Regions from separate parts of the Homo sapiens genome. Here all the other regions are linked to region 5. Evidence: fine-mapped expression QTL. A gene starts in region 5. Each other region holds a variant in brackets. All regions are shown on one strand. Distances are between the middles of the regions. Region 1 overlaps DST (dystonin). Region 2 overlaps DST (dystonin). Region 3 overlaps DST (dystonin). Region 4 has its middle 120 kb from the start of COL21A1. Region 5 holds the start of DST (dystonin). Region 6 overlaps DST (dystonin). Region 7 holds the start of DST-AS1 (DST antisense RNA 1).

The links. PIP is the estimated chance that this variant, and not a neighbour inherited with it, causes the effect.
Region 1: its variant is fine-mapped to the expression of DST in whole blood (TOPMed, PIP above 0.99).
Region 2: its variant is fine-mapped to the expression of DST in whole blood (TOPMed, PIP 0.98).
Region 3: its variant is fine-mapped to the expression of DST in whole blood (TOPMed, PIP 0.98).
Region 4: its variant is fine-mapped to the expression of DST in whole blood (TOPMed, PIP above 0.99).
Region 6: its variant is fine-mapped to the expression of DST in whole blood (TOPMed, PIP 0.96).
Region 7: its variant is fine-mapped to the expression of DST in blood mononuclear cells (TOPMed, PIP above 0.99).

What each region holds. Positions count from the first base shown.
Region 1 is chr6:56,780,870-56,785,390 of GRCh38, forward strand. The region is part of intron 4 of DST (dystonin); the gene reads right to left. Among named protein-coding and RNA genes, the nearest start is that of DST-AS1, 61 kb to the right of the region's middle. The variant C/T (reference allele first, on the strand shown) is at 2,605.
Region 2 is chr6:56,886,147-56,890,667 of GRCh38, forward strand. All of the region lies in intron 3 of DST (dystonin), which reads right to left. Among named protein-coding and RNA genes, the nearest start is that of DST-AS1, 44 kb to the left of the region's middle. RefSeq lists an enhancer at 1,402-1,571 and a cis regulatory region at 1,487. The variant G/A (reference allele first, on the strand shown) is at 2,743.
Region 3 is chr6:56,737,448-56,741,968 of GRCh38, forward strand. All of the region lies in intron 4 of DST (dystonin), which reads right to left. Among named protein-coding and RNA genes, the nearest start is that of DST-AS1, 100 kb to the right of the region's middle. The variant G/A (reference allele first, on the strand shown) is at 2,564.
Region 4 is chr6:56,368,536-56,373,056 of GRCh38, forward strand. It overlaps a transcript of COL21A1 not described here. Among named protein-coding and RNA genes, the nearest start is that of COL21A1, 120 kb to the left of the region's middle. The variant C/A (reference allele first, on the strand shown) is at 2,493.
Region 5 is chr6:56,953,001-56,957,521 of GRCh38, forward strand. It overlaps DST (dystonin), which reads right to left and starts at 1,830. Exons shown (of 104, transcript NM_001374736.1): 1 at 1,407-1,830; 2 at 785-819. The coding sequence starts at 1,587. BEND6 (BEN domain containing 6) reads left to right here and starts at 2,107. Exons shown (of 7, transcript NM_152731.3): 1 at 2,107-2,460. RefSeq lists an enhancer at 813-1,444 and a silencer at 1,606-2,295.
Region 6 is chr6:56,931,519-56,936,039 of GRCh38, forward strand. The region is part of intron 2 of DST (dystonin); the gene reads right to left. Among named protein-coding and RNA genes, the nearest start is that of DST, 21 kb to the right of the region's middle. The variant C/T (reference allele first, on the strand shown) is at 2,125.
Region 7 is chr6:56,841,168-56,845,688 of GRCh38, forward strand. The region is part of intron 4 of DST (dystonin); the gene reads right to left. It overlaps DST-AS1 (DST antisense RNA 1), which reads left to right and starts at 2,819. Exons shown (of 4, transcript NR_125866.1): 1 at 2,819-2,899. RefSeq lists enhancers at 1,392-2,260, 2,261-3,128 and silencers at 2,212-2,471, 2,562-2,761, 3,102-3,241. The variant T/A (reference allele first, on the strand shown) is at 2,545.

The sequences.
Region 1 (4,521 bases), 170 kb before region 5:
TAAGTCTTTAATCCATCTTGAATTAATTTTTGTATAAGGTATAAGGAAGGGATCCAGTTTCAGCTTTCTACATATGGTTGCCAGTTTTCCCAGCACCATTTATTAAATAGGGAATCCTTTCCCCATTGCTTGTTTTTCTCAGGTTTGTCAAAGATCAGATAGTTGTAGATATGTGGTGTTATTTCTGAGGGCTCTGTTCTGTCCATTGATCTATATCTCTGTTTTGGTACCAGTACCATGCTGTTTTGGTTACTGTAGCCTTGTAGTATTGTTTGAAGTCAGGTAGCGTGATGCCTCCAGCTTTGTTCTTTCGGCTTAGGATTGACTTGGTGATGCGGGCTTTTTGATTCCATATGAACTTTAAAGTAGTTTTTTCCAATTCTGTGAAGAAAGTCATTGGTAGCTTGATGGGGATGGCATTGAATCTATAAACTACCTTGGGCAGTATGGCCATTTTCAAGATATTGATTCTTCCTACCCATGAGCATGGAATGTTCTTCCATTCGTTTGTATCCTCTTTTATTTCATTGAGCAGTGGTTTGTAGTTCTCCTTGAAGAGGTCCTTCACGTCCCTTGTAAGTTGGATTCCTAAGTATTTTATTCTCTTGGAAGCAACTGTGAATGGGAGTTCACTCATGATTTGGCTCTCTGTTTGTCTGTTATTGGTGTACAAGAATGCTTGTGATTTTTGTACATTGATTTTGTATCCTGAGACTTTGCTGAAGTTGCTTATCAGCTTAAGGAGATTTTAGGCTGAGACAATGGGGTTTTCTAGATATACAATCATGTCGTCTGCAAACAGGGACAATTTGACTTCCTCCTTTCCTAATTGAATACCCTTTATTTCCTTTTCCTGCCTAATTGCCCTGGCCAGAACTTTCAACACTATGTTGAATAGGAGTGGTGAGAGAGGGCATCCCTGTCTTGTGCCAGTTTTCAAAGGGAATGCTTCCAGTTTTTGCCCATTCAGTATGATATTGGCTGTGGGTCTGTCATAGATAGCTCTTATTATTTTGAGATACATCCCATCAATACCTAATTTATTGACAGTTTTTAGCATGAAGAGTTGTTGAATTTTGTCAAAGGCCTTTTCTGCATCTATTGAGATAATCATGTGGTTTTTGTCTTTGGTTCTGTTTATATGCTGCATTACATTTATTGATTTGCGTATATTGAACCAGCCTTGCATCCCAGGGATGAAACCCACTTGATCATGGTGGATAAGCTTTTCGATGTGCTGCTGGATTCGGTTTGCCAGTATTTTATTGAGGATTTTTGCATCAATGTTCATCAAGGATATTGGTCTAAAATTCTCTTTTTTGGTTGTGTCTCTGCCCGGCTTTGGGATCAGGATGATGCTGGCCTCACAAAATGAGTGAGGGAGGATTCCCTCTTTTTCTATTGATTGGACTAGTTTCAGAAGGAATGGTACCAGCTCCTCCTTGTACCTCTGGTAGAATTCGGCTGTGAATCCATCTGGTCCTGGACTCTTTTTGGTTGGTAAGCTATTGATTATTGCCACAATTTCAGAGCCTGTTATTGGTCTATTCAGAGATTCAACTTCTTCCTGGTTTAGTCTTGGGAGAGTGCATGTGTTGAGGAATTTATCCATTTCTTCTAGATTTTCTAGTTTATTTGCATAGAGGTGTTTGTAGTATTCTCTGATGGTAGTTTGTATTTCTGTGGGATTGGTGGTGATATCCCCTTTATCATTTTTTATTGCATCTATTTGATTCTTCTGTCTTTTTTTCTTTATTAGTCTTGCTAGCGGTCTATCAATTTTGTTGATCCTTTCAAAAAACCAGCTCCTGGATTCATTAATTTTTTGAAGGGTTTTTTGTGTCTCTATTTCCTTCAGTTCTGCTCTGATTTTCGTTATTTCTTGCCTTCTGTTAGCTTTTGAATGTGTTTGCTCTTGCTTCTCTAGTTCTTTTAATTGTGATGTTAGGGTATCAATTTTGGATCTTTCCTGCTTTCTCTTGTGGGCATTTAGTGCTATAAATTTCCCTCTACACACTGCTTTGAATGTGTCCCAGAGATTCTGGTATGTTGTGACTTTGTTCTCGTTGGTTTCAAAGAACATCTTTATTACTGCCTTCATTTCGTTAGGTACCCAGTAGTCATTCAGGAGCAGGTTGTTCAGTTTCCATGCAGTTGAGCGGTTTTGAGTGAGTTTCTTAATCCTGAGTTCTAGTTTGATTGCACTGTGGTCTGAGAGACAGTTTGTTATAATTTCTGTTCTTTTACATTTGCTGAGGAGAGCTTTACTTCCAACTATGTGGTCAGTTTTGGAATAGGTGTGGTGTGGTGCTGAAAAAAATGTATATTCTGTTGATTTGGGGTGGAGAGTTCTGTAGATGTCTATTACGTCTGCTTGGTGCAGAGCTGAGTCCAATTCCTGGGTATCCTTGTTAACTTTCTGTCTCATTGATCTGTCTAATGTTGACAGTGGGGTGTTAAAGTCTCCCATTATTATTGTGTGGGAGTCTAAGTCTCCTTGTAGGTCACTCAGGACTTGCTTTATGAATCTGGGTGCTCCTGTATTGGGTGCATATATATTTAGGATAGTTAGCTCTTCTTGTTGAATTGATCCCTTTACCATTA[C/T]GTAATGGCCTTCTTTGTCTCTTTTGATCTTTGTTGGTTTAAAGTCTGTTTTACCAGAGACTAGGATTGCAGCCCCTGCCTTTTTTTGTTTTCCATTTGCTTGGTAGATCTTCCTCCATCCTTTTATTTTGAGCCTATGTGTGTCTCTGCACGTGAGATGGGTTTCCTGAATACAGCACACTGATGGGTCTTGACTCTTGATCCAATTTGCCAGTCTGTGTCTTTTAATTGGAGCATTTAGTCCATTTACATTTAAAGTTAATATTGTTATGTGTGAACCTGATCCTGTCATTATGATGTTAGCTGGTTATTTTGCTCGTTAGTTGATGCAGTTTCTTCCTAGTCTCAATGGTCTTTACATTTTGGCTTGATTTTGCAGCGGCTGGTACCTGTTGTGCCTTTCCATGTTTAGTGCTTCCTTCAGGCGCTCTTTTAGGGCAGGCCTGGTGGTGACAAAATCTCTCAGCATTTGCTTGTCTGTAAAGGATTTTATTTCTCCTTCACTTATGAAGCTTAGTTTGGCTGGATATGAAATTCTGGGTTGAAAATTCTTTTCTTTAAGAATGTTGAATATTGGCCCCCACTCTCTTCTGGCTTGTAGAGTTTCTGCCGAGAGATCTGCTGTTAGTCTGATGAGCTTCCCTTTGTGGGTAACTTGACCTTTCTCTCTGGTTCTCCTTAACATTTTTTCCTTCATTTCAACTTTGGTGAATGTGACAATTACGTGTCTTGGAGTTACTCCTCTCAAGGAGTATCTTTGTGGCGTTCTCTGTATTTCCTGAATCTGAATGTTGGCCTGCCTTGCTAGATTGGGGAAGTTCTCCTGGATAATATCCTGCAGAGTGTTTTCCAACTTGGTTCCATTCTCCCCGTCACTTTCAGGTACACTGATCAGACGCAGATTTGGTCTTTTCACATAGTCCCATATTTCTTGGAGGCTTTGTTCATTTCTTTTTATTCTTTTTTCTCTAAACTTCCCTTCTTGCTTCATTTCATTCATTTAATCTTCCATCGCTGATACCCTTTCTTCCAGTTGATCGCATCAGCTCCTGAGGCTTCTGCATTCTTCACGTAGTTCTCGAGCCTTGGCTTTCAGCTCCATCAGCTCCTTTAAGCACTTCTCTGTATTGGTTATTGTAGTTATATATTCGTCTAAAGTTTTTTCAGAGTTTTCAACTTCTTTGCCTTTGGTTTGAATTTCCTCCTGTAGCTCGGAGTAGTTTGATCGTCTGAAGCCTTCTTCTCTCAACTCGTCAAAGTCATTCTCCATCCAGCTTTGTTCCGTTGCTGGTGAGGAACTGCGTTCCTTTGGAGGAGGAGAGGCGCTCTGCTTTTTAGAGTTTCCAGTTTTTCTGCTCTGTTTTTTTCCCCATCTTTATGGTTTTATCCGCTTTTGGTCTTTGATGATGGTGATGTACAGATGGGTTTTTGGTGTGGATGTCCTTTCTGTTTGTTAGTTTTCCTTCTAACAGACAGGACCCTCAGCTGCAGGTCTGTTGGAATTTGCTAGAGGTCCACTCCAGACCCTGTTTGCCTGGGTATCAGCGGCAGTGTCTGCAGAACCGCGGATTTTCGTGATCCGCGAATGCTGCTGTCTGATCGTTCCTCTGGAAGTTTTGTCTCAGAGGAGTACCCGGCCGTGCGAGGTGTCAGTCTGCCCCTACTGGGGGGTGCCTCCCAGTTAGGCTGCTCGGGGACCCACCTGAGGAGGCAGTCTGCCCATTATCAGATCTCCAGCTGAGTGCTGGGAGAACCACTGCTCTCCTCAAAGCTGTCAGACAGGGACATTTAAGTCTGCAGAGGTTACTGCTGTCTTTTTGTCTGTGCCCTGCCCCCAGAGGTGGAGCCTACAGAGGCAGGCAGGCCTCCTTGAGCTGTGGTGGGCTCCACCCAGTTCGATCTTCCAGGCTGCTTTGT
Region 2 (4,521 bases), 67 kb before region 5:
GGGATACTGAATAATTCCTCCAGTCAAATGGAATCTATATTCTTCTCCCTGGAAGTTCTCACCCAATTCTCTAAGCATTGTCAGAGATAAAGACTAAATAAACATAGGATAAACACAGGAGACAACAGACTGCAAGGATGAGAGAGGTCTGCTTCTAACTGACCTTATGAACTTAAGCCAATCACCTACTCACTGAGGTTTAGTTTTGTCAAACTGGATCAATAATATATGCCATACCCAACACACAGGGTGTTTGTTCAGGAGATAATGAATATGAGCAGTCTTTGAAAGTATGAAGTGCTACTTAACTACGAAGTACTACTCCAAAGCTATAATTTTCCTGAAACAGCCAGGCATGGTGGCTCACGCCTGTAATCCCAGCATTTTGGGAGGCCGAGGCGGGCAGATCACCTGAGGTTAGGAGTTCGAGACCACCCTGACCAACATGGAGAAACCCCGTCTCTACTAAAAATACAAAATTAGCTGGGTGTGGTGGCACATGCCTGTAATCCCAGCTGCTCGGGAGGCTGAGGCAGGAGAATTGCTTGAACCCAGGAGGTGGAGTTTGCGGTGAGCCGGAGATCGTGCCATTGCACTCCAGCCTAGGCAATGAGAGTGAAACTCAGTCTCAAAAAAAAAAAAAAAAAAAAAATTCCTGAAACATTACTGTCATTTCTAGAACTGAATTCTCATCTCCCAAAGCACAAACTAAATTTTGTTCAATTTCCATAGATTGATTTTTTTGAAACACAATCATCATCTCAGAACTAAAATAAATAAATAAAGAGAGAGAGACAGAAAATATTGAGAGAAATCAGACCCTTATCACTCACTTGGAGGTGGTTTAGAAGAGTAAAACAAAAATGATGTTTGGAAAAATTAAGAATTAGACTTAGGAGAAAAGTTCAGAGAGATAGAACCATGAGCCTAGAAAAGAAACAATTTATTGATTTTCAAGTACAATTAACTTGCTGCTAATTAGCACTATTTAATGGTAGGAGATTGTATCACTAAAAGTACTGAAGCAGAGAGGAATCTAGCATTACAAAAACTGTTAAGTCAGATGAGCTCTAAGATCCCCTCAAGCTTTAACATTCTTTGATTCACAAAGACTGAGAGTGACACGGTAGCAGGTGGCTATGCTTCATCCTCTCCACAGAGGATACCACAATAAGAAATGGTCTTAAATTGTAAGGCATGGGATTTAGGGCAAAGATCAAGGAGTTGTTTCAGGCAGAGATGGCTGTTAAATTCCAAACAGAATTCTGAGGTAAGCTATGGCTGTGTCCTTTAAAATAAAGGAAGCTATACCCATCTTACCAGAGCAATTTAAGGATTTCTTTGGTTAGAGGTGAAATAATAAACTAGACCATCTTTGAAGGGGCTTTCTTTTCAGTCCTTTGATCCATAGTTGTCCATGAAAATTTTCAAAGTGTAAGTGACTATCTAAATGTTTTCTTTAAGTTTCCTTGGTTTGGAGATTAAAGAATTTAAGGTTTTTTTTATTTAAGACAACAGGTTGTCATCACATACAAGAAAGACATAGAAAGAATGGCAAGAGGTCTTGCTTCAGTCAAAATACTGACCTCAAAAAAGAATCATGAGTTATGAACACATGCTTATTTTTCTCCAAGCAGAACACATGAATCCCTTTACCAAGTTAATCTTGGTTTCATGAGTTGTTTATAGAGACTAAACTGTTCATTCAATACAGTCTACCTACCTTGCACATTCTTGTGCCCCTGTGCATTAATTATTCCAATACCTTACTGTAATTTATTATAGCAAGCCTATAATAAATGAAATCTTTTTTTTTTTTTTTTGAGATGGAGTCTCGCTCTGTTACCAGGCTGGAGTGCAGCAGTGCGATCTCGGCTCACTGCAACCTCTGCCTCCCGGGTTCAAGCGATTCTCCTGCCTCAGCCTCCCAAGTAGCTGAGACTACAGGCACGTGCCACCATGCCCAGCTAAGTTTTGTATTTTTAGTAGAGACGGGTTTCACCATGTTGGCTGGGATGGTCTCAATCTCTTGACCTCGTGATCCGCCCGCCTCAGCCTCCCAGTGTGCTGGGATTACAGACGTGAACCACCACACCTGGCCATAAATGAAATCTTTTATAAAATTCTATTAATTATGAACCTAAAAAGGGAGGTACAGCAATATGTAGCAAAGACTCAGTACATTGAATGGGTGTCATTCAAAAAAATTCTTTTCAGATAATTAGCAAAAGAAATTTGACTTTATTAATCAATTCATTCTCCAGAATTCCAAAGGGGAAAAGGAAACAAATGTTTCCTCTAAGAGCTTTGGATTTGCTAGTTAATTAGCCAAAGTAAGGTATGAGTTGTACAGTTATGCCTTCCACAAAAGGGGAAATATCCTAAGGTTATGCACATAGAGCTGCCTGGTCCTACATATTTGAAAAGGAAAGGGAAAAGGAAGACCATTTTAATAATCTAAGCAGGAAAGGAACACAGAAACACCCTGCTATATTTTCAAGAGATCAAGGATATATGCTTAAGTCTTTCCTACACTCCAAAAAGTTCCCAACTACAAATATGACAAAATCTGGTTAATTTAATTATTACAAATTAAAGCTATATAATGTTCCAAAATATACTGCAGCCTTACAAAAACCTAAGCTGTAATCAGAAAAACAGAAAATTTCCCCAAGACTGAAAAACAGAAACCCACAACAGAAGGAAAAGAAGGGTGAGGTCAAGGAAGTGGTGGTTTAGTTG[G/A]GGAGAGTTCAGGGAAGGGAAAATCTAATGAGTACATCTGGGACTTCATTTCCTGCTATTTTCTCTAGTCTCTACCTGAGTGGCCTTTTCTTGGCCTAAAATGAATAGCCTTAAATCAAAGTCAAGAGCTACCTAGACCCATGTCTGCTTAAGGCATTTATATTTCTGAGTGAAGAGTTGGAAGTTATAAGCGATCCTCAGTCCTCTTCCCAAACTCTCATCACTGGCAGACTCCAAGGCTCAGACCTCAAGTGTCTTCTCTTCTCTATCAAATTCATTTTCGGAGTCATCCCACCCAGTCTTATAGATTTAATAACATCTATGTACAAATAATTCTCACATCTTCCATGAAATCCAGACACAAGAATATCTAATAGTTATTTCAAACTTCACATATCCAAATCAGAAAATTTTCTTTCCAATCCTCAATCCAAACCTGCTTCTTCCTTTGTGCTTACCATTTCAGAAAAGAGGATCACCCAATCACCTGTGTTAGGCCCATATGTCCTCCAACTCCTCAGTCAAAACTGTCAGGTTCAAAAATCCCATTGCTTGATGGTGGTGGGAGCCCAAAAGTAAGAAAACAGGTGCTCAGAGGCTAAGATTTTGCCAGCAGGGAGAACAAGCTGCAGCTTTGGCAATAACCTGGGAACACTAGCAATTTTTAATTATACTTTTTCAGCTCAGTGAGAAAGTCTCAAAGATTCTAAGTCACCAGGAAATGCAGGCAATGCTGTTGCAGTGTGCAAAAAACTGGAATCAGTGAAATGTAACAGGAGTAGAGTCAGTATGTTTGATTATTTCCTGATGCTCTAAAACTGTTATTTCCCCATACCCACCCCCAATCTCAAACACATAAATACTTTTTGGGTCTGAAAGTTGTACATTAACAGGTTCATGTGAGCAGGCAGTAGGGCAAAATTACTCTTGCTTACTTCTTGCTACCTCCTAGGTGCCCTGCCACAGAAAGAGGGGGCCAATTTTGCCAATAAAATGATGGCAAAAATGATGTTTGAGGTTTACCTATGGTTTTCAATACCATTTTAAAGATAGGTTTTAATTGATGTAATAGTTTAAAAACACAAAGATTTCATCCATATCTACCATCTATGCAGTTAGAAAAATGAGACTCAAAGTAATTAAAATACTTCAGGAAGGCTGATGAGGATAAATGTCTAGCACTAGAATTGTAATCATGGGGAGTTCTCCATTCCTTACTCAAAAACGGCTCAAGCCAAGAGTGCCTAGGTTTAAATGTTAACTCCATGATCTACCAGCTGTATGACCTTGACACATTTCCTCCCTGGAAAGTGAGCACCGACTCCAGAGAATCGCTGAGAAGATAAAATGAGAGAAAAACAGAGAAGAGTGCAGAGAACAATGCCCATGTATTGTCAATGAGGTAAACATGCAGTAATGCAAGAGTTCTTATGATGATGATGATGATGTTTAAAAATCCTGGGATTCAGAAACAAAACAAAATGCTTTGTAATGTGAAAATACTAAGGAATAAATGGAGATCTGGATCTAATTATCTTTTCTGTTTCAAGATGGTAAAAAAAATTCCTAAGCATCCTAGTGACATATCTTAATATACAGTATAAATCCAAATACATATGTACTGAGAGGAAATCAGGATAAATTTTTAGTTTATCCACTTTTAGAAACATCTAAAACAAGGAGTAAAATAAAAAATCTAGATATTATTAAGTTTTTATTAGTGATCCCCATTACAAATTCTTATAGGTATATTTGCATATAGCTTACAAATCCAGAATA
Region 3 (4,521 bases), 220 kb before region 5:
TTAAGTTTAAACCAAAGTTAATTAAAGCAAAATACAATTAACAATTCAGTTTCTTTGTTGCACTAGTCACAATTTAAGTGCTTGACAGTCACATGTAGCTAATGGCTAACATATTGAAAAGCAGAGAAATAGAACATTCTAATCATCACGGAAATTCCTATCAGACAGCACTGCTCTAGAACAAAGCTCTACTGGACAGCGCTACTTTAGAATAATTTGATATAGAATAATCCCATCATCACAGAAGTTTCTGTCAGACAGCACTGCTCTAAAACAAAGCTCTACTGGACAACACTGCTGTACAACAATTTGTTAATATACATAAAAAGCCCTAAAAATACCTACGACCTTTCCCAGCAAATCTACTTCTAAAATCTATTCTGAAGTTATAATCATATTATGTACAAAATGTAACTATGAGAATATAAATCAGAGTGCTTACAATAGGAAAATAAAAATTCTGAAAAAACACAAATGTTCGAGAAAAGGAAATAAGGAAATTTTAGTAAAGTGATACAATGGTCTGTTCAAATTCAACTTGTTGTAAGACTACTCAGTGATAGTATTATCATTTAGAGTTCTCCTACTTTAATGCCAATAAGAATGGGGGGGAGGAACATATAACGTACTTTTTATTTCATAAGCATTTCTTCTCCAAAGTACCTCATTGAAACACCTTCCATTTCCTATCACTGTCAGGGAGAAAAAAAAGGTACTTATATACAGCCCATCTTTTGATTCTGCCTATAATACCTTTTCAGTGCCCCCAACTTCTAATCTACTTCTTATTTAAAAATTAGATAAAGGGGTGCAGAAAGCATTCCCAGACAGTAGAAGTAGTTTGCTAATTCTGAATATAAATGCTCAGAATTTATACTAAAATTTTTTTTTGAGACAAAATCTTGCTCTGCTGTCCAGGCTGGAGTGCAACGGCATGATCTCAGCTCACTACAACCTCCGCCTCCCAGGTGCAAGCGATTCTCCTGCCTCAGCCTCCCGAGTAGCTGGGACTACAGGCATGTGCCACCACGCTTGGCTAATTTTTTGTATTTTTAGTACAGATGGGGTTTCACCGTGTTAGCCAGGATGGTCTCAATCTCCTGACCTCGTGATCGGCCCGCCTCAGCCTCCCAAAGTGCTGGGATTACAGGCGTGAGACACCGAGTCTGGCCTGGTTTTATCTTTGTTTTGTTTGAGACAGTCTCGCTCTGTTGCCCAGGCTGGACTACAGTGGCACAATCTTGGCTTACTGCAACCTCCACGTCCCTGGACTCAAATGATCCTCTCACCTCAGCCTCCCAAGGAGTTGGGACTACAGGTGCATGTCACCACGCTTGGTGAATTTTTGCATTTTTTGCAGAGATGGGGTTTCGTCATGTTGCCCAGGCTGGTCTTGAACACCTAAGCTCACGCCATCCACCTGCTTCAGCCTCCCAGAGTGCTGGGATTATAGGCGTGAACCACTGTGTCTGACCCTAAAATTATTTTATTTGCCTCATTCCAAGTGTAAAACCCCCAGGCACTTTGCTTAAAACTGCTATCAAAAGCAATGATATTAATAATTATGAACCAATAATATTATCCACAAAATATTTATTAATTCCTCTATTGGCCCCTTAGGGGCATCATCTATACCTCATTCATCTTTGTCTACCACATACTAGATGCCACAAAGCCTCTATGCTGCAATGCCTCTATGCGCTCAACAGATAGATGCCCATTGTGTGAAATAATTTTATTTCAGGAAGGACAATCCAACTGAGGAAAACAATGTAGAATTACTTGTATACATATATACAGTAGTATATACAACTATATCTCTTAAAGCAATAATGGTGTCCTAAATGTCTTTCGGCCTTGCTATTCCTAGACAGTTCAAAATGAACCTAAATTACCAATTTGTTGGTAAAGCAAGAACAAGGAAACAGAAACAATTTACTAGTTCTCTTCACTGATAAGTGCAGATTCTGTACTTCCCTCATTTACTCACTCTTCATCCTAGCATCTATCTGGTCATTTAATGAGTCCAGTGCTATGGTGGTGCTGGTGTCAGAGGGGTGTGAACTAGAGCAACTCCATCTTGAATAGGAGCTAGGTAAAAGGAAGCTGAGACCTACTGGGCTGCATTCCCAGATGGTTAAGGCATTCTAAGTCACAGGTTGAGATAGGAGGTCAGCACAAGATACAGGTCATAAAGACCTTGCTAATAAAACAGATTGCAGTAAAGATGCTGACTAAAACCCACCAAAACCAAAATGGCAACGAGAGTGACCTCTGGTCGTCCTCACTATGACATTCCCACCAGCGCCATGACAGTTTACAAATCCCATGGCAATGTCAGGAAGCTACCCTATATGGTCTACAAGGAGGAGGCATGAATAATCCACCCCTTGTTTAGCATATCATCAAGAAATAACCACAAAAATGAGCAACCAGCAGCCCTCAGGGCTGCTATGTCTATGGAGTAGCCATTCTTTATTCTCAGCTCGCTACAACCTCCGCCTCCCAGGTTCAAGGGATTCTCTTGTCTCAGCCTCCTGAGTAGCTGGGATCACAGGCATGC[G/A]CCAACACACCTGGCTAATGTTTGTATTTTAGACAGGGTTTCGCCATGTTAGCCAGGTTGGTTCCAAACTCCTGACCTCAGGTGATCCTCCCGCCTCGGCCTCCCAAAGTGTTGGGATTACAAAGTGTAGGCCAGGCGTGAGCCACCGCACCTGGCCTACTTTCTTAATAAACTTGCTTTCACTTTATTCTGTGGACTCACCCTGAATTCTCTCTGGCAAGAGATCCAAGAACCCTCTCTTGGGGTTTGAATCTGGACCCCTGTCCTGTAACACTGAGACCACCAGGCTGCAGAGAAAGCACTAGTCTTGGTTTCTGAAGCTCATGACCTGGAGAGGACACCTGACAGAAAGGCAGTGTGGTAAGCACACCAGTTGAGAGAAGTACATGGCACTCACCATGTATGCAAGCACAAAAGAGAGAAGGACCAACCTCATCCAGGGCAGTCAGGTGGGGCTTAAAGGACAGGAAGTAGGGTAGCAAAACAGAAGCCAGCCATGTGTCAATTTCTCCACTAAAAAGAATCTCTGACTTAATCATTTAACATTGAAAGAGCCTTGGTTAGGACCCAACTCTTATGTTTCCCTACAAGGTTGCTTCCACTATCCCCAAGATACTGTCATTTTTCAAATGGAAGTGCTGACCACATCTCAGTCACAGACAGGGAGCTGGGGAATCTGGCTCTGTGATGTGATGTGAACTTTGGACAACTGATTGCAAACAATGGAAGTTCTGTGCCAAAGTCTAGCACTCATATCACATTTTCAGCAGTGATGTTCTAAGCATCCAGCAAAAAGAAAACAGAGTAAATGAAAAAAATTACTTCCTAGGTAATATCCATATTATTCCCATTAAATAACAACCAAGGCCCCTGATGCTAAATCCTCAAGAAAAAAAAATTAATAATATATTAAAAATCTTTATAATTCAAGAATAGAGTTTCCATATAAGTCACAAAATAAATTTAATCTATTATGTGTATTATATAAACTATTTTCTTCTTGGGTAAAAAAGGGTTAACAAAATAGATTTCTTCTTTTCTAAGTGAATAAAAACTGGTCCTATAGTTCAAGGAACATGAGGTAAAACAGATTCTATAGATAAATTGGCTAATTACTTACCAAAGCAGTATATTAAGAAAGCTGATTTAATCAAATAATTTACCTCTAAGTACAGAGGTACTTACTATACAAAGGTTCTTTTGATCAATGAGGTTTTGTTGTTGTTGTTGTGCTAGATGCTCAAAAGCACTGCTAATAACATGATATTTCGTAGGTACTACTGAGGTAATATCTAGGAATTATGATCCGTAACTAAAGTACATAAGATACAAAGACTAAATAACACACATAATTCATAAATTCTGATACTGTTTTCTAACAGGAACAACCTAAACCTCTTCTTTTAAACCATGATCAACTTAAATGAGTCCCATTCAAATACCAAAATATGCTCTTTAACATGAGAAGGCTTCCACAATGCTACAGGAATGAGAAAAGAGTTAATGTGAATTCTAAAGGCTTCAACTTTCTTCAAGAGAGCAACCTAGAGTCAGAGAATAATTTAAGTCTGGGAAGACTTTGTAAATCACACCACTTTCCATACACATTATTTCAAAAGGGAGTTATTTCAAAAGGGAGTATTCCAGATTACACCATCTAATTTTCCAATTACAAGTCTCATAATGGTTCTTTATTTCATTTCAGTTAGAGATGTCTAACACTGAGATTTATATTTAGAGCAATGTTGCTACAGCAACAAAAAGGGAAACTCATTCCTGTGATTTTAAACAATTGAACTTTTATAACATTCCTCTATTTGAAAATTATTTCATTTATAGATTAAGTTTTCAATAAAAATATATATTTATATCCCCCTTATAAAGTGTAACAGCTGAAAATATGTAACGACAATGAAGACAAAGAATAACAGAATTGGGGGGGAACAAATAAATGCAAA
Region 4 (4,521 bases), 580 kb before region 5:
GGGCAGTGACCACTTTGTTATTTGATTAAAATTCCAGTTGGTCATGGTTGGAACCAGGTTCTTACTCCACAACCTCTTCTCCTCACCCCCCTTAAAATTCACTTACATTCCTTTTGTTTCAGAGTTATCTGCCATTGGCTGCCAGGGAAAGTTTGTTTATATTTCTTGGGAACGAAGCTTCAAGGTCACTTCCTATCATTAATTCTCTGTGAGCAAGTGTCGCTTGGGACATTTCCTGTTCCTATTCTCAGTGGTGCTGAGGAAGAGAAATTTTCAATGGTCTCTAATTTTTAATCTTCTACAGCAGTCTTCAAATATATGCTGGATGCTGGTATACCATTCATTTTATTTAACTGTGACTATTTCAGTAGAAAAATGTCCACATAATTTCTCCATTAAAAATGTAATATGCTCACTGCTGAGACTCTATCTGTAGAATGGGCAGCATGGTATTTTCTGCCATCTTTGGAAACAAGCTAGGTGGAGTACAGATTGCTTAGAAATCAATGCAAATAAATACTAAGTATGAATCCAGAGTATCTACTATTAGCTGAATATCGAGAACCAATTGTTTTGGTCATCTTTCCTAACTATAGCCAAAAGACAAAATTCAATTCAAAACACTTAAGTAAAAGTGTTATTTTAATCATTGGTGGCTTTTTAAAGATGGAAATACTAGTAAAAAGTGGAAGGACTTACCCTAGAAGATAATGAAGGCATACTATAAAGTTATAATAGTTCAAGCAGTCTGATAACAGGGTAAGAATAGCCATAAGTCAATTCAAAACAAAATGAATACTAGATAAACGCAGGACCCATCAAAAACCATCCTACATATCACACAGCAAAAGAAATCTAAGATGTGAGAGGGTGTTATGTAAAATTGTGTCCATGAAAGAATCAAAATATTGATAAAAAAAGTGTCTGATGTTGAGACCCAGAGGCTTTTCTGGACATAAAGGTAGAAAAAAAATAAAGAAAAAAAACTGATGTATGTGACTGCAAAAGAATGTAAATCTTCCCATCTTAAAAGAATCCTGAACAAGATAAGAAAGGAAACAATTGTGAAAACTTTTTTTATAAGATATGATAAAAGGAGTTAATGTGTTCAACAGAGAGAGATCTTTTAAATCAATTAGAATTAATTCAATGTCTCCATCATAGAAATATGGGCAAAGGATGTAAATAGCCAATTCGCCAAAGAAGAATCACATAAATGGCCATAAATACGAAAAAATTGCTCAACCTCAATGATATTCAAACAGAAACTAATTAAAACAGCCACAGTAAATATTTATACAAAACCAATTGATATTCAGAGTGAATGTACAGCTATTAAAGGTAATCACACTCAGCTACTAAAACTTCTTTCATTTGAATTAAAAGCAAGGGAAATGCTCATGATATATTTTAATTGGAAAAGTATCATACAAAACAGTTTATGTTGAATGGTTGTAATTATTCAAAAATATATGCTTACGTGTAAACATAAGCTAGAAAAAGACTTGAGGCCATATAGGCGTTATCTCTAGGTGGTGAGATTTTAGGCTACTTTAAATTTCTTGTTATGCTTTTCTGTATTTGTCTTTTCCTTTATTAATCAAAAAAACAGAAAAGGTCAACGGCCCACATGGAGTCTGATCTCCAGGTCCTCGCCTACATTCACGTTCCCAGCAGTGGCCGCTTGAGGACACTAGGCTCCTGGATTGCCTGATTCAGATCCCGATCTGGAAAAACCTGTCTCTGTTCCCGGCCTTCCTCAGAGTTCAGCTTCCACCGGCATCACGTCCCTCTCTGAGCACACACCGTGAGAATTAATCAGAGCCTCTCTGTAAAATGTGAGATTTGTCAAATATATGAAAAGCTAAGCAATAAAATTTGACACACCAGCTAAATACAGGTGGTGTTAACATGCAGTTTAAAATAACTGCGGTCCCTCTGTGAGGGCACTGCACATGATTAACACAGAACTCTATCCTATAGCTGGTGTTATTCCTGCATTTTTCAAATGCTTTTACTTGGACCTTTTCAAAATAAACCGTACAATTGGGCTTTATGTGCTTATATGGCAAAGCTGCTCCCTATGATACCATCACAAGGCGAAAGCATAAAATCTAGTTAAGAGTTCTTGCCAAAACATGAATCAGTTGTAGCATAATATTCTGAACTCTGGTCTTCTTTTTTTCCATTCTCTAATATTTCTTCACATCACAGCCCAAACAATTGCTCATAATTAAACTGAGTGCAGGAACAGGCCCTGGCAGGAAATGTACTTGGCAAAGATCCAATAGCTCTTCATTGTCCTCCACACAGAACAATTACATCAGTTCCTTCCATTCCCAGAAAAAGAATGGATTTTGCAGAGCAACAGATGAAAATAAAAGGAAGGAGGCAGCTTATTTACATATTTCTAATCAGGTTAATATATAATCTTTTTATGGAAAAAGGAAATGCCTTGAAGAATTGAATGATCATCTTAAAAACCTGCTTTC[C/A]CTTCCTCTAGGATCTGCACCACATGCTGACCACAACTTCTGCTCACCAGTTACTCATGTCTGCTGAAAACCCTCCAGGTTCAAAGGGAAATTCAGCCAATAAGTGTGATATATTCCAGAGTCTGGAAGCTTCAAGAGAAGTTAAATGCCATCAAGTTGCTGTTTGAAAAGTTAAAAATGTATCGTCACTCAGTTCTTCAGCATCTGCTATTTATTCAGTAGATTCACTGAAAATCCTAATGCAGAAAGAGGATTTAGGGACTACATTTGTACACTGGGATAGGGTAAGATAAGAGACATCTTATGAGTTGTTTGGCTTCAGCTCATCTAAATGACAAGGAATCACAGCCCAATCTGCTGCATTCTGATGACCAATGCTTTATCAGCTTAAGGGCATGCCAGGAGAGTCAGGTGCCCAGCCCCACCTCAGGGGCAACCAAGGTGAAGAGATATCGGCCTTCAACCCAAGTTCCCCCCATTCACGTGGACCATCCCAGGCCTTTCCTCTTCTGCCTGTTCACCAGCTCCTGGGTAGACTGGAACTTCTCAGGGTTCCCCAGGAAAGGGCAGTTTGAGTAGAGGGGCCCATCCTCATAAATCCAAGAAGTGCCAGAGACATGCAGAATCTGCAGTTCAGCCTCTCATTGACATCAGATGAAAGAACACTATATCCACAGGAGTGTCTGAGCCATTCAGGAGAAGTGGGTACCATTTTGGGTGCCAAGAAGACCTTAGACTTTCCATTCATATGTTATTTGAATTCCTTGACCTTTCATCTATTTCTCCTGGGCTAAACCCCTAAAGGCCTCAGCTCCCTGGGCCATCAGAGAAGTGAAGATGATCGGACAAGCAGAAAGGAGTTTCCAGAATCCACACCCAAGTCCCTGCTCCACAGAGCTGGGCTGAGTCCCCTTGTGACTGGGTTGGACCCAAGAAACAGGGAGGCCAGAGGTGCTTAGCAAAGTGAAGGGGGACAAGGCAACAAGTATTGTGCCCCAGAAAATGAGGGGACAGCTCCAAGATGTTTATTCCCCCAGAGAATAAATCCTTGAGGTGTGTCCTACACCAGAACACTAATTCAACAGGGCCAGAGATATGCCAACTCCTGGAGAGGAAGGAGCCGGCTTCTAATCAAATGTTTACAAATGGATTCCTGTACAAATCCACAAATCTTAGAGACAGTCAAAGCAGACACTTTGACCCTGCAACTGGACATAGAGCATGGATTTCATGCTCTCATTAGCTGAGAACAGTATTCCTTGAAATACAGGAGACAGGAGCAAAATTAGAGAAAATCTGGATAATTTGATCTGAGAAAGCATTTACACAGGACAAGGAGAGACTGGCCAACCTACCAGGCTGGCTGACAGGAATGGTGGTTCTCTTCCTCCTCACTCAGGCTTGTCCATGTGTCAACGCATCAAGAGTATTCAGAAAGTATTGGCAGGGAGAACTCTGTAAAAATGCCCCAATAAAGAAGCAAGAATATGATTTCTACACTAATAATGAACACAGCACCATATAAGGCAGGAATTTCTTGTTTACAAGTGACAGACGCTCAACTCATAAGGGAGTATGTAACTAAAGCCAAAAAGGGAATTTATCAGCTTATGTAAGGCTGGAGTGGGGGGAAAAAAGCTTCAGGAACATCTAGATTCAGAGGCTTCAATAATGTCATCTGGGCTTTGTCTGTCTCTCCATCTCTTGGTTTTTCTCCCTCCTTTATGTTGGCTTAATTCTGCAGTCCAGTTCTCCCATGATAGGGAAGGTGGCTGTTGTAATGGTATTGGTCATTCTTTTGTTCTGTAGCATCTGGAACTCCTCTCTATGTTTAGGGAATTTCCTGCCTCATAACTCTTGGTGAGGCGTGTGCCCTCCCAGTATAAAAACTGAAAATGTCAGATGTTTGATTTCCCATATGCCTTTGCAGCTGGGGATCTGGCATATAACCCAGACTACCCCTAAATTTGGAGCTAGAAAGCAAAATAAAAAAAAAAAAGAAACTTTGAGGTCTTGTCCCTGTTGAACT
Region 5 (4,521 bases):
TTCAGGTAAATGGAGGGCGTTTAACTATGAAGTCTTTGCCAACATGAGTAAACTGCACCAAGCAGCAACCTCCAAGCCTGGCGGCGTGCAACTTTCCTAAAAAGAGGGGAAATTATCTTAGGATAAGTGGAGGTTGGCCTGAAAACTCCTAAAGAAATCCTAGGTCAAGGAGCGCTTGTGTTTCTTCAGTGGAGCTGGTTCCTGGGTGCAGTGATTAGGAGTTACTTGCCCTAGAGGGATGGTCCACGTTTTGAGAGTGGAGACTAGCACAAGCATTTAAGCACACACTACCATCATCGCTTTGCAAAAATCATCAGATGGTCCCCAATAAAACATGGAGAGCTTTAGGAGAAAACAGAAATGTAAACTTGAAAATCGAAAATGAAATGCATATGGATCAAATTGTTCTGCACTAACCTCTTCGTTTATCCAAGTGAACAACCAGAGTCAACTGACAGCACCCAGAAAACACTTCCACCAGCAAAATATAAACTGTAAACTCAAGTGACATCCACCCTGTGGCTAAGTTTTTTAAGGTCTGCAGCACTTTTAGGGTTTGCCTTTTCCCCTCTTGTACAACAGCTCCACTACACAAGAAATTTGCTAAAACCGTTCGCTGGGCACTAATATGAAATCACTTAAAAGGAAACATGCCACTTTCGGCTAGGGGACAGCATGTTCGTCATTCAGTGTCCTACTGGTTTCTTAACACGCATATAATTAATATTGGTACTCAGGAAAGAGAACTTCTTCTGACCTTGAGCGTGCGCGCTAAATAAATTACCTCAGAACGAAAGTGGTGCGATCTCAAAACAGCATCTGGGGAGAAAAGAGATAAATGAGACTTCATTTAACTCCTTGTTCTTCACCTACCGAGTGACTCATGACTTACCTGGGAGACCAGGGTTGGGAAAGCACATCGCAGACTCCTGGAATTCGGTGGGACATCCTGGGGGAGGGAGGAGGAGTCCTGGGGCCATCGGTCTCTACGTGATTTCTCCGCGAGAAGTTTGCATGAAAGTTCTGGGGGAGTTGGGGAGCCCCGAAGTTTCCATGCCTTACTTTCTTACCCCTACGCTCCAGCGAAGGATGCGTGAAGGCGAGGCTGGCGCAGCCCCGGACTACGCTCAAATTACCCTTAAGGCTTTAGCAAACTGACTAAAAATTTGAGTTCTTTCCTCCCCTCCCTGCCCTCGGCATCGCCGTGGTTATTCAAACCTGGGAGACTGGAGGGCGGAGGTGACGGCAAAAAGGGCAAGGGGCGTTAAAGAAACGCACTCAGCCTGGGGAGTGGGCAATGATGGGGCTAGGGGCAGCCGAGGAGAAGGGAGCGAGCCGCGCTTCACTCTCCAAATCGGCTTAATTGTTCCTGGTAGCCCGCAGAAACCCGTCGCGGCGTGTCTTACCTCGGCTTCTTGAACGACCCGAGAAGACCGATTTCATCGGATGCCTCCCTTTCTGGAGCTTGCGGTGCCAGCAGCAGAAGAAGACGATGGTGGCGATGGTGCCCAGCAGAAGCAACAAGAGGAAGAGGGCACATTGGATGCTGTAGGGTCTCAGCAAGACGAGGAAAGCCGCGGCGATCATGGTGCGGGCGAGGCGAGGGCGACTCGACGGCGGGGCTGGAGGGCGGCGGCACAGGCACCCGCGCTGGGCGCACGCCGGGACGGCGGGCACGGGTGAGCGCGGCTCAGCGCGTCATGCCTGGCGCTCGCGGCCCCGCGCCCAGCCCAATGGCTGCGCACCCCGCGCCAGCCGCGCTACGCGAGTGATCCAGGGCTGCGGGGAGCGCTTGCCATGACTCAGCAGACAGCGACGAGGCTGCGACTCGGCGGCTGGGATCCTCTCCCCTCCCTCCCCAGGCGCCCCCGCCCCCGTCCGTGCGCAGCCCCCGGGCGCAGCCCCGCCGGGGACGCGGCGAGTGGGGAGGAGCAGCGCCGCCGCCGCGGCCGCCCGGGCCCCGCGCATCGTCCTGCGGCCGCCGCCGACCTCAGCATCCCAGAAGCCGGGCGCACGTGGGTCGGGGCGGGGACGCGGCGCTCAGGCTGCAGCCGCGGCAGCCTGCGGGGGGCGGGAATGGGGCGCCGCGGCGGGGGCTCGGCTGATGACATCACGGCCAGGCTGCGGCAGCGCGGGCGCGCGGACATGGCTGCGGCGGTTTCGGCGGCGTCCGCGGGCTGCACCCGGGCCTGAGAGCCCAGCGCCCTCCCGCGGGGCCGCCCGCCAGTCCGCGCCGTCCGCGGGTGCATTGGCCGGGTGCCTCTAGCTTCCCGGACACCCGGAGCTTCCGCCTATCCAGCCTCCCTCGGCCAAATTGCTGCGGAGCCCGTCGTCAGGGGGCGCCAAGGAGCCAGGGGGAAAACCGAGAGGCGCTGACAGGAGCCTCCCGGCGGTGCTACCCTCCACCTCCCACCTCCCTGCGCCCCGCCCCGAGGTTGGGGCTTTGAAGAATGCAGCCGGGTGAGCTATTGCTTGTGGGGGTTTCCTCGCACTCTGAAGCGCGAGCGCCGGGAAGGGCCTTCCCTGGGAATTGGGATACTCCAGGAACGGGAGGCCCACTCCTCTCCAAGCCTCTCTAAACTAGGAGCGCTCCGGGGTAGTACGCTCTGGTCGGCAGAGGTGAACTCTTCCACCCCAAACTTGGTGCTTATCTCGCAGCTAAGAATTGGGCACTTTCGATCTTCTTGTATCCCTGGGTTTGCCCTAAAACCCTGACTCATTTAGTGCATTTGAAGGGCAAGGCGATTTCAGATTTAGGGACCTGGCAGATGAAGTAAGTTGGTACTTGGCTTATAAACATTTGGGGGAGAAATTTTTTAGGGAGTGTGAGGCAATAGTGATCTCTCACACTTGCAGGCACACTCTGTCTCCCCTTTGTCCCCTCCCCACGTTTCTTCATAACCAGCAAAAAGTATATGGCAGTTGGTGGCCAGGGGATTTAACACTGATGCAATGCCAGCACGGAAGGTATAGCGAGAGCGCTGCAGTGTGCCTTTCTGCGGACGGCCACGGCCACCTGGCCAGGAAGCGGCTGCTGCAGCAGTCATTCTGCGGCATCTTGCGGCCTTGGCGGGCGGTGCTGTGCCGCGTTCTGCTGCCCCCAAGGCAATGCTGGCTTTCCCTGTGTGGGGCTGGATTGTTTGTTTCATTTACTCGCATAAGAAAACTTTAATTATAGTGACAAGGTAACACTTGACTGCATTTGCGGAGTTTCTTATAACAACTGTATTAGCCTCTTTTTTGGAATATTTAATAGACTGAAGAAATTGTGTCATAAAAATTTATAAAAATTTGAAAAGCAGGTAAATAATTGGGAGGAATAAAAGTTTTATTTGCTTGTAGTGATCTCAAAATCAGTGTTGTTTTCCAACTATACAAAACCGTACAGCTCTGCATGAAAGCTTAATCATTGATGTCCTTAAAGCCAGTAACATATTACCGTGTGTAAGTATTAAACCTAAAAAGGCATTGGTTAATGCAGTCTCTTAGTGCCAGATTCATAAGCATGGAAAACAACAGATACGTTTTGTTTACAGCTGGTTTCCTTAAACAAAATAAACATTCGAATTGTTGACATGTTGCATCTCATTCATTCAGTTGTTTTGGATTGAACTCAGAAGGGCCCTTGCTTGGAGACACTGCATAAGGTGGGAATTTTGAATGGCAGCATGTAGGCTGCACTGAATTCCAGGATAGGCTTCATGGGTCTCTAGCACTCAGAGTGGGTGACAGGTAGCACTACATCATGTGCATATGGCTAAAGGTTTCTTGATACCGCAGCCCACTGCAGTGAGAAACTATTCAACAATTATGCAGAGGTTATTGAAGAAAATCCTGAGAGTTTGCAATGTGTGGCACATCAGGAAAGGAAGAATTCTCCACCGCATTGACTCAACAATGGCATGGTGGAGTAATTTTAAACAACAAAACTGAACTAACCGTGTGCAGACATTGGGGGAAATAACTAACAGAATTTTGGAAGGTCATCTTTATGCTTCTCATTGACTGAAATTTGTAAGTGAGCTGAAATAGCCTACGTATCCTTGAACAGAAACATGTCAAAGACACACAGAATAGTATTCAAATTGCCCCAAACGCTATATTTTTTTAACAACAAAAAGCAACTAAATAGCTATTATGGTTTTCTGAGCTATGACTTTAGCACAACTGTTATCATCCTGCGTCTTGCTGCAGCCATTTATAAGTTTCAAGTGCACACAAGAACATCATTTATCTCTCTTGGCAGGCAAATGCTTAACTGCCATGCAATAGGATTATAGATATTTCTTTTTAGATGCATTCATTTCTGTTCTTTCCATCAGTTGTCTTAAAGATACTAATAATAAACAAACCAAATCCTTGAAAGAATTTAGTATTTAGTTCCATTGTTATTTTCTGATTTGTTTGTTGCTAATTTATCATTTTTTCCAAATAACAGCATACATAGTATTAATTGCTTCTGTCTGTGTGTTTATGTGGTGCCTAATGCATTGCGGAATTCAATAAATACTAAATCAGCCA
Region 6 (4,521 bases), 21 kb before region 5:
TGGTAGATCCACCAACCGCTTACACTGTTGGCCTGGAAAAGCTGCAGACACTCAACACTAGCCTGTGAAAGCAGCCAGGAGGGAGGCTGTACCCTTCAAAGCCACAGGGGTGGAGCTGCCCAAGAACATGGGAACCCACCTCTTGCATCAGTGTGACCTGGATGTGAGACCTGGAGTCACAGAAGATCATTTCGGAGCTTTAAAATTTGACTGCCCTGCTGGATTTTGGACTTGCATGGGCCTTTGTAACCACTTTGTTTTGGCCAATTCCTCCCATTTGGAACTGCTGTATTTACCCAATACCTGTAACCCCATTGTATCTAAGAAGTAACTAGCTTGCTTTTGATTCTACAGGCTCATAGGCAGAAGAGATTTGCCTTGTCTCAGATGAGACTTTGGACTTTCGGGTTAATGCTGAAATGAGTTAAGACTTTGGGGGACTGCTGGGAAGGCATGATTGGTTTTGAAATGTGAGGACAGGATTGGTTTTGAAACGTGAGGACATGAGATTAGGAGGGGCCAGGGGCTGAATGATATGGTTTGGCTCTGTGTCCCCACCCGAATCTCATCTTGAATTGTACTCCCATAATTCCCATGTGTTGTGGGAAGGATCCAGTGGGAGATAATTTGAATCATGGGGGTGGTTTCCCCCAGACTGTTCTCGTGGTAGTAAATAAGCTTCAGGAGATCTGATGGTTTTATGGGGGGTTTCTGCTTTTGCTTCTCTCTCATTTTCTCTTGCCACCAACATGTAAGAAGTGCCTTTTGCTTCCCGCCATGATTCTGAGGCCTCCCCAGCCATGTGAACTTTAAATCCAATTAAACCTCTTTTTCTTCCAGAAAAAGTCTTCCAAACCTAGTCTCAAGTTTGTCTTTATCAGCAGAATGGAAGTGGACTAATAGAGGGGCATTTAAGGGAAGAGCAATTCCTTGACCAGGGTATTCTGGAAAGCCACAGAACAGGCATAGGAGGAACAGGCAGCCGGGAGGCAAGAGAAGGGTGGGAGAGAAGGAGGAGGGAAAACAGCTGAACTGAAGTTCAACTACTCTGTATTTTCTCAAATATGCCTGGTAACTCTAGTTTACTCACTTAATTCCATTCCTATATACATCAAATATTTAGCCAACATCAAATATTCAACAAATAGTAAGTGCCTATTCCATGCCAGATGCCACACAAGGCTATGGATACAAGATAAAAATTACATACCACCTGCCTTGGTGTGTAAATCCCCATATCTGGTGCCCTCATCCAGTCCCAGAGTGAGATGGAGCAGGGACACTTCTTAGGGGTCTGTGGGTCCCAAGCATAGAAATAATAGAAAATCCTGAGTTCCTTCAAGGGAATTTCCAGGTACCTAGGTCTCCCTGAGAAATAAATGAGCAACTAGATAAGCAAGAAGGTAATAGTAGCTTAAAACAATCTCCCAGGAAGTTAAAATAATACAATGTTTGGTTCTCTATAGAAAGTAAAGATAAAATCTTAACATATGTTCCTGAGTTGTTTTTCAGAAACCCAGACCCCCACCGAACAGCATGTAGACCTCAGATAGGAGGAACTGAGGACTGATCTCTGACCACTTCTCTTTGCTGTAAATTTCTTCCTGATGGTCCTGAAAGAAGTCACACCAGAAACCAGAGCTAACAATCTTTTCTGCTGACCCAGATCTTAAACAAAGCTTCCCTTCCTTAACCAATTGCAAAACAGAAAATCTTTTAATCTACCTATGACCTGCCCCCACTTCAAGATATCCCACCCTTTGTAGGCCAAACCAATGTGTAACCTCTGCATATTGATTTATGATTTTGTCTGTAACTTCTGCTTTCCTAAAACTTAACCATGCCTTTAAGAACTCGACTTGCAAGCCATTGAGGAGATCAGGTCTTTCAGCATAAGCTGCACTATTCTCCTTGCTTGGCACCCTGCAAATAAATGCCCTCCTTTCTTCCACTGCAAACCTCAGTGTGGATGTTTGGCCTTACCGTGCCAGGTGAGCAGGCCCCAGTTAGTTCAGTTCAATAACAAGAGGGGAGAATGTCCAGGAAGACTAAGGGAAGAATGTGAGATAAAGAAAGGAAGAAAATGATGTTTAATCCTCATTTTTAAGTAGAAATGGGAGTTTG[C/T]AACAACAACAAAAAAGTAGAATAGAGGGGTTCCAGCATGAGCAATGGCATGAAAACAGAATGGGGTAGGGAACCAAGCAGCTGGGTCTTGTTTGAGTTTAAGGTGTGCATTAGAGGTATGTGGGAGCTGATACCAAGAAAGGGTGTACTTATCCTGTAAGCAACGGGAAGCCATTAAGCAAAGAAAAGCCATTAAGCAAAAGGAGTGGAAGATCAGATCTTATTTCAGATAGCTTACTCTGCCAACAGTATCATAAAAAGTGAACTGAAACCCAAAGCCAAGGAAACCAGATAACAGGCTTTTGTAAGAGCCAATTCCTACATTGTCTCTGGCTTAAGGGCTTTTACATTTGTCACTATTACATTTTGTTTTATTTTATATACATATATATATTTTTTATTTTTTAGAGATGGGGATCTCACCATGCTGCTCAGGCTGGTCACAAACTCCTGGCTTCTAAAAATCTTCCCATCTCAGCCTCCTAAGTAGAACATTTTATTTAATTAGATGCTACTCATCTTTCTAGCGATTGCCTTCACCAGGTGACTGCAATTTATCCTCAAACAGGGACACTTTTTAAGATGGGATGCTAAAACAACAGACTTAAACTCAAATTCTCCCCCTCCTCAGCCCCTACCAAAGGGCTAATAGAATCTGCCCATCACTGGGGGTTGTTAGCATAACACATACTTGACCCTCAAAAAATGGCAACTGTTGCTTTTCTACTTAGTTTTTATTTTTTTAATTTGGAAAGCTAACAATAATAAATCACTTTTGTTATGGTCTGGGCTTATAAATTCCAGCACACTGCCTGGAAATGCGTTAGCTCAAGAGGGGGACAGTTTACTAATTTGTCAATCATCAGCCCACTAGTGCACTTTTATATACATATAAAATATACATATTATATATTATATTATATATATATATATATATATATATATATCGTGAGAGAGAGAGAAGGAGGGGAGAGAGAGAGAGAGAATATGACATGGAGAGAGAGAATTAAGGCACACTAATGTCTCCATCACCAAAATGGAGAGATCATTGGTTTTGTGAACTATCTCAGATTGGCTGCCCTCTGACATTAAGGATGCCTCTAGGCTGACCCTTCCAATAACTTCCAACTCTCAGTTTAACATATACTCAGAAAACACAAAATAATTTTAATATTATTCTTAAAAAAAATTAGGAAGCTATATATTCTTTAAAAAATATTGTAACATATTCCAAAGCCAAATATTGATGTCCACTAAAAGAGTTTACTAGTGTTTCTTTGAGCAACTTAGGTAAAAAAGAGTTAACTAAATATATCTAAAAAGAAATTTCTTGTTAGCTTCATGGATGATTCCCATACTGTCACCCTATCAATTGGCAGTATCTCCGTTTTCCTAAGCTACACACACTACTTCAGCTTTAATTAAAAGGCCCGTTGCCATAGTTTCTCGGCGAACAGCTCAAGGCATGCTTGAGTCCATTATTAACTGAAGTTTCTAGAGAAATTGTAATATAGCAGTAGCCAGCCAAAATTTCCCAATTTTATCTCCCACCCAGAACAGCTGATGATTCAGACATACAGCTAGGTAATCCAAATATTTCAAGAGAGTCTAAACAATTAAGAATGTATTTGGGATTCACTTTGGGATGCCCCACAACCGTTTTTAAAACAAGAGGCAGTCACACTCTAGATCAGTCTGAAATGCTCGCAACTGCCTGCTGCCTGCTGCGTGCAGCTCACTGCAGAGTGGGCAGTAGCAGGAATATACTATTTAATGTTCTTTTAATGATTCTTCAAAGTTGGTCAGTTAGTTATTTAAAACTTGTTAATGGTCTACTGCTTAATTACTTCTTAATGTGAAATTTCTACTCTTTGTAAACTCATCAGTAAATATGAAGTGATACATATTGTTTTCTTTAAAATCTGCAAGTAGTTCTTTAACCTCAATCTATTTTATGTACAGAAGTTGGAGACAAATGCAGAAAATATAAAGAATAATGAGATTGCCGGGCACGGTAGCTCACACCTGTAATCCCAGCACTTTGGGAGGCCAAAGTGGGCGGATCACGAGGTCAAGAGATCGAGACCATCCTGGCCAACATGGTGAAAACCCGTCTCTACTAAAATACAAAAATTAGCTGGGCATGGTGGTGCGTGCCTGTAGTCCCAGCTACTCAGGAGGCTGAGGCAGGAGAATTGCTTGAACCCGGGAGGCAGAGGTTGCAGTGAGCCGAGATCACACCACTGCACTCCAGCCTGGTGACAGAACGAGACTCTGTCTCAAAAAGAGAAAAAAGAAAAACAAAAAGAATAATGAGATTGGACCAAAAAAATAAGAAAAGAAACTTTTCCAAAATGAATAATCTATTGATGTTTGATTCCTAAAAAATTTGTATAA
Region 7 (4,521 bases), 110 kb before region 5:
GTCATCATACTGGATACTGATGGGAAATCATAACTGGCTTCAAAACACATCGGGAAACAATGAGTTTTCCAGGTCTCCAGCTTTTCATGGAATACACTGCCCAATACTCTTACTTTCCTTTCCATGACTAAATGAAACATAGCACAGCTATAAAGCCCAAGTACAAATTGATGAACTAAGCATTTTAAAAACCTTAAGTAAAAATGAGGAAAACTCCCATCATTTTTTCAGTGACGTCTGAACAATATGTTTGAAAATGTATCTGTTTAAGGGCAATACTGATTGTTGTACACTGGCCTTCAGATCTTTAATTTCCTTTTATTTCCAAAGGCAAAGACAAGCTTTTAAACAATGCCTACTTCTTTTAGACAAAGTCAAATAAGCACTCGTTTTCAGTCACCTGAAATCACCCACGTGTCACTTAAGTAAAACTTCATGTGACAAAAATTCATTCAGCTATAATTTTTTTCAAAAGTATAAAATGTATCTACTTTAGAACTTTCAGATTTTTTTATTTCTGACTGTATAGAGCACAGATGTATTTCTTCAATAAGGTTTGTTGGTCTATATTGCAATATTTCTCCTTTTCAAAGCTCTGGAAACAACTAATTACAAACCTTACTTTAAAATGGAGTGATGCAGGTAAACATGAGTATATTACCCACCCACCCACATACACACACACACACACACAAATGTCACAAATGTGCTTTAGCCTAAAATATCACTGCACTTGCTCAGTGGCAGTATTATACACAATAAGAGTCTTGGCACAAAGGAATTCTCATTGTACTGTTTACAAAATTCTACAAGGATTGCAAGAATTTCGGTTATAAAACATATCCTACAAAGAGAGAAAACAATTGTGAGTGTATTTGGGCTTTTTGGGGCTTTGGAATTTTATTGTTTAGTTCAATTTTTTTTTATTTCTACTTTCTACTAATAGAAAAACTACATGCATCATTAACCATATAATACCACTGAAATTACTGACATTGAGTTACCAAACCCAAAGCAAATATTCAAAAGATATAAAACCATCTGAATCCTACCTATGAAATGGGTCACTATTCACTATAAATACTTTAAACCTCTGTGAGCTGCTCTTGAGTTCGGAGTGTTTTGGGAGCCACAATAAAAAGATGGTATACACACACTTAAAAATACATTTCCAGACACAAAAACACTTAAAAAATGGACAGCTGCAATTTGTATTTCATCATTATATTCAACTATGAAGTCCAAGTAAACATTATACTAAAACATAAATATCAGATTGGCATAGAATTTCCTGAACATAAAGGATGGGCAGAAAAAAATCTCAAAATACATTCTTTACATTTAAATTTACAACAAACTCACTAAAGTCTTTTATCCATCACGCTATAAAATAATTTTTACAATATATCAGAGTAAGTATATAGTCACAAACTTTATCAAATAAGAAAGATCATTTTAAGGAAAATGATCTAGTGATGCTGAACCTTTTCTACAGGGCTAACCAATACCCTAGCCAAGCAGCAGCAGCAATGCCTTAGTAATCCCATAGAGAATAATCGGTATCCACCCTCCCAGGAAGAATTATGATTACGCGTAGTGCTTAAGAGCTTTTACAAGGGAGAGAAAACGCAATGTGCTTCTTGGAAACAACCCCCTTCCCCCCTCTCTACCGCTCATCTAAGGGCGTCTCCGGACTGTCGCCCACCCCACCATCCTCCCTGCGCTGGGGGTACTAAATCCCGTGCAAAAAGACCTGGTCCATTCCCAAGACTGGTCCAGACACCTGTTTACTCGTGCCCAAGGAGTGGTGGCTCTGATTAAGGAAAGGCAGCGGTTGCCTCTCTGATCAGTGCCAAGCTCCGCAGCCCCAGGGCAGGGACCACATACCTTTGTACCTCTCCAGGACATCCTCGTAGGCCTGGAGATACTCCTGCTCCTCCACGTACAGGTAAGCAGCAGGGGAGAGGTAACCCGCCATGCCGAAGTTTATCTAAGCGATGACTGACAAATTCCCCTCTCCCCCTCGTAACCCCCGGACAGTATCGCAGTCAGCAAGACACAGCCTTGGGAACTGGAAAAGAGGAAGGAGCAGCACGCTGGGGAGAAGCACGGAAGCCGAAGACGCAGAGCGGGGGCGCAGGGGGCTGCCGGCGCCAGGGCCGGCAAAGGAAACGCCCAGGCCTCCGGGCAGGCCGATGGTGGGCCGCCCGGCTCCGGGAGCCCGAGTCCCTCTCGGGTTTCAGCAGCGGCAAATCTCAGCGAGCCCAGGGGCGGCGACGAGCAGCGCCACGCCAAGCGGAGGAGCGGGGCGTGCGGCGAGGGCGGGCGGGGGCCGGCGGGCGCCCGGACCCTCTGCGGCCGCGCTGACCGCTCTGCTGGCCCTGCACGAGGCGCGTGCTTCGGGCCGGGCCGAGGCCGCGGCAGCGGTGCGGGAGGACCGGCGCGCTGCCTTCACCGGGGATGCTGCGCGGCGCATCTGCGGCATTTCCTGGCCGCCGCGCCGCAGACACTCGCCCGCGCCGGGGAGAGAGGGAGGGAGGAGGG[T/A]GGAGGGTGGAGGGTGGAGAGTGGAGGGTGGAGGGTGGAGGGTGGAGGGCGGAGGGCGGAAGGGAGGGGGCGAGCGCGGCGGTCAGCGCCCCGGCTGGCTCAGCTCCGGCCCCGGCGCCTCTCGGCCCCTCCCTCCCAGGCAGAGCCACGCGCCCCAGGCCCCCTCCCCAGGCCCGCCCACCCTGGTGGACCGTGCGGCCAAGCACGCCCACCCCCGGACACTGGCTGCCCGGTCCCGGATCCCCAAGGGCGACGTTTCTATTTGGGATCCACAACAGGTGCCTGAGAAACAAAGCCGCAGATCGCTCCACCGCTGTGCGCAGCCCCCTGCTGAGGGGCCAGCGGCTCTCCCTGGGTAAGGGATGATCGGGGGGAGGGTTGGAAATACTTTCTTCCACCCATCTTTTTGGCGTGGGAGGATTCAGGTCACTCTGTGACAGCACAGGGCAAGGAGGGCACGGGGGTCCGCGTCTAGGGGACATCCCGGGGACAGGGTGAGGAGGCCTCTGCAGGTGGCCCCGCGCATCAGCGCCTGACAGCCGGGCCGCGCCTGCGCCTGAGCTCCCGGCCGCCGCGAGGCTGCCGAGTACCAGCCTGCGGTCCCTCCCTTCTGCCCCCCAGAGCCCACAGGCGCATCTGCTGCTGGGCTCCGCGGCGGGCCTATAGGTTCACAACTGCCCCATATTTATCACCTCCCTCCTGCTCTCTCCTTATTATTCATTCTACATAGTACTAGTATCCATTAAACTGAGTAAAATGGATACAGTTCCCTTAAATTAGATATATGTGTATCATATACTAAAGTGGGTGAGTTTAAGCGTCCATTGGAGGAACCAACTGATACCCAGGCATGTAAATGGATGTGTTTAAGAGTAATGACTGGCCGGGCGCGGTGTCTCACGCCTGTAATCCCAGCACTTTGGGAGGCCGAGGCGGGTGGATCACGAGGTCAGGAGTTCAAGACCAGCCTGGCCAAAATGGTGAAATCCCGTCTCTACTAAAAATACAAAATTTAGCCGGGCGTGGTGGCGGGTACCTATAATCCCAGCTACTCGGGAGGTTGAGGCAGAGAACTGCTTGAACCCGGGAGGTGGAGGTTGCAGTGAGCCGAGATCACGCCACCGTATTCCAGCCTGGGCGACAGAGCAAGACTCCGTCTCAAAAAAAAAAAAAACAGTGAAGTCAGGCTGCTGTACATAGAATCTTCACTCCTTACTGTGTCACATGGGCAAGTTACTTATCCTCTCTGAGACTCTCTTCATCAGTAAAACAGCGATAGTAGTGCCTAACTCATAAAGTTGTATAGTAAATGAAGTTTAGAATAATGTCTGGTGTTATATAAGGATTAGCTGCTGCACCTACTACTTTATTTAGGAGGTGGGGTCTCACTCTGTCATCCAGGCTGGAGTACAGTGACAGGATGATACCTCATTGCTACTGCTATTATTAGATAAATCAGCTGATTGTTGACAGTCTGACCTATGTCAACTTCACGTCTTGTCTAAATCTTCCTTCCCTATTTCCTCCTTTCACATATACTGACCTTTTGCCCTCCATGATTTTTTATTTCTTTGTTAGCGTTGGGTGTTGTGAACTATGGACCATTTTCCATTAATGCTTAGATAGGGATGAGTTCCTCTTGAAAGAAAAAATTGTGTACTCGTGGGAAAAAAAAACTGACTTGAGATAGAACTGGAGCACTCCTCAGCAATTGGCCTACTTCTGTTACTCCAAACAAAGCAAGACCACATCTCTTTTTTCTATCCTGACCACTGGTTTATAATCTGAGTTTGAACCACTGTCCCAGTAAGTCTTTAAGGTTACTAGAGTTTTCTTACAGCTCGATATGCATTTGTATGCACATTAGTTCATAAAGTAACAACCAGGCATCATATGGGACACCTTCTTGAAATAAAAGGGTTAGCAATTAAGTCCCTGAAAGTCATTCATTTACAGACCACACATGTATAGACATAG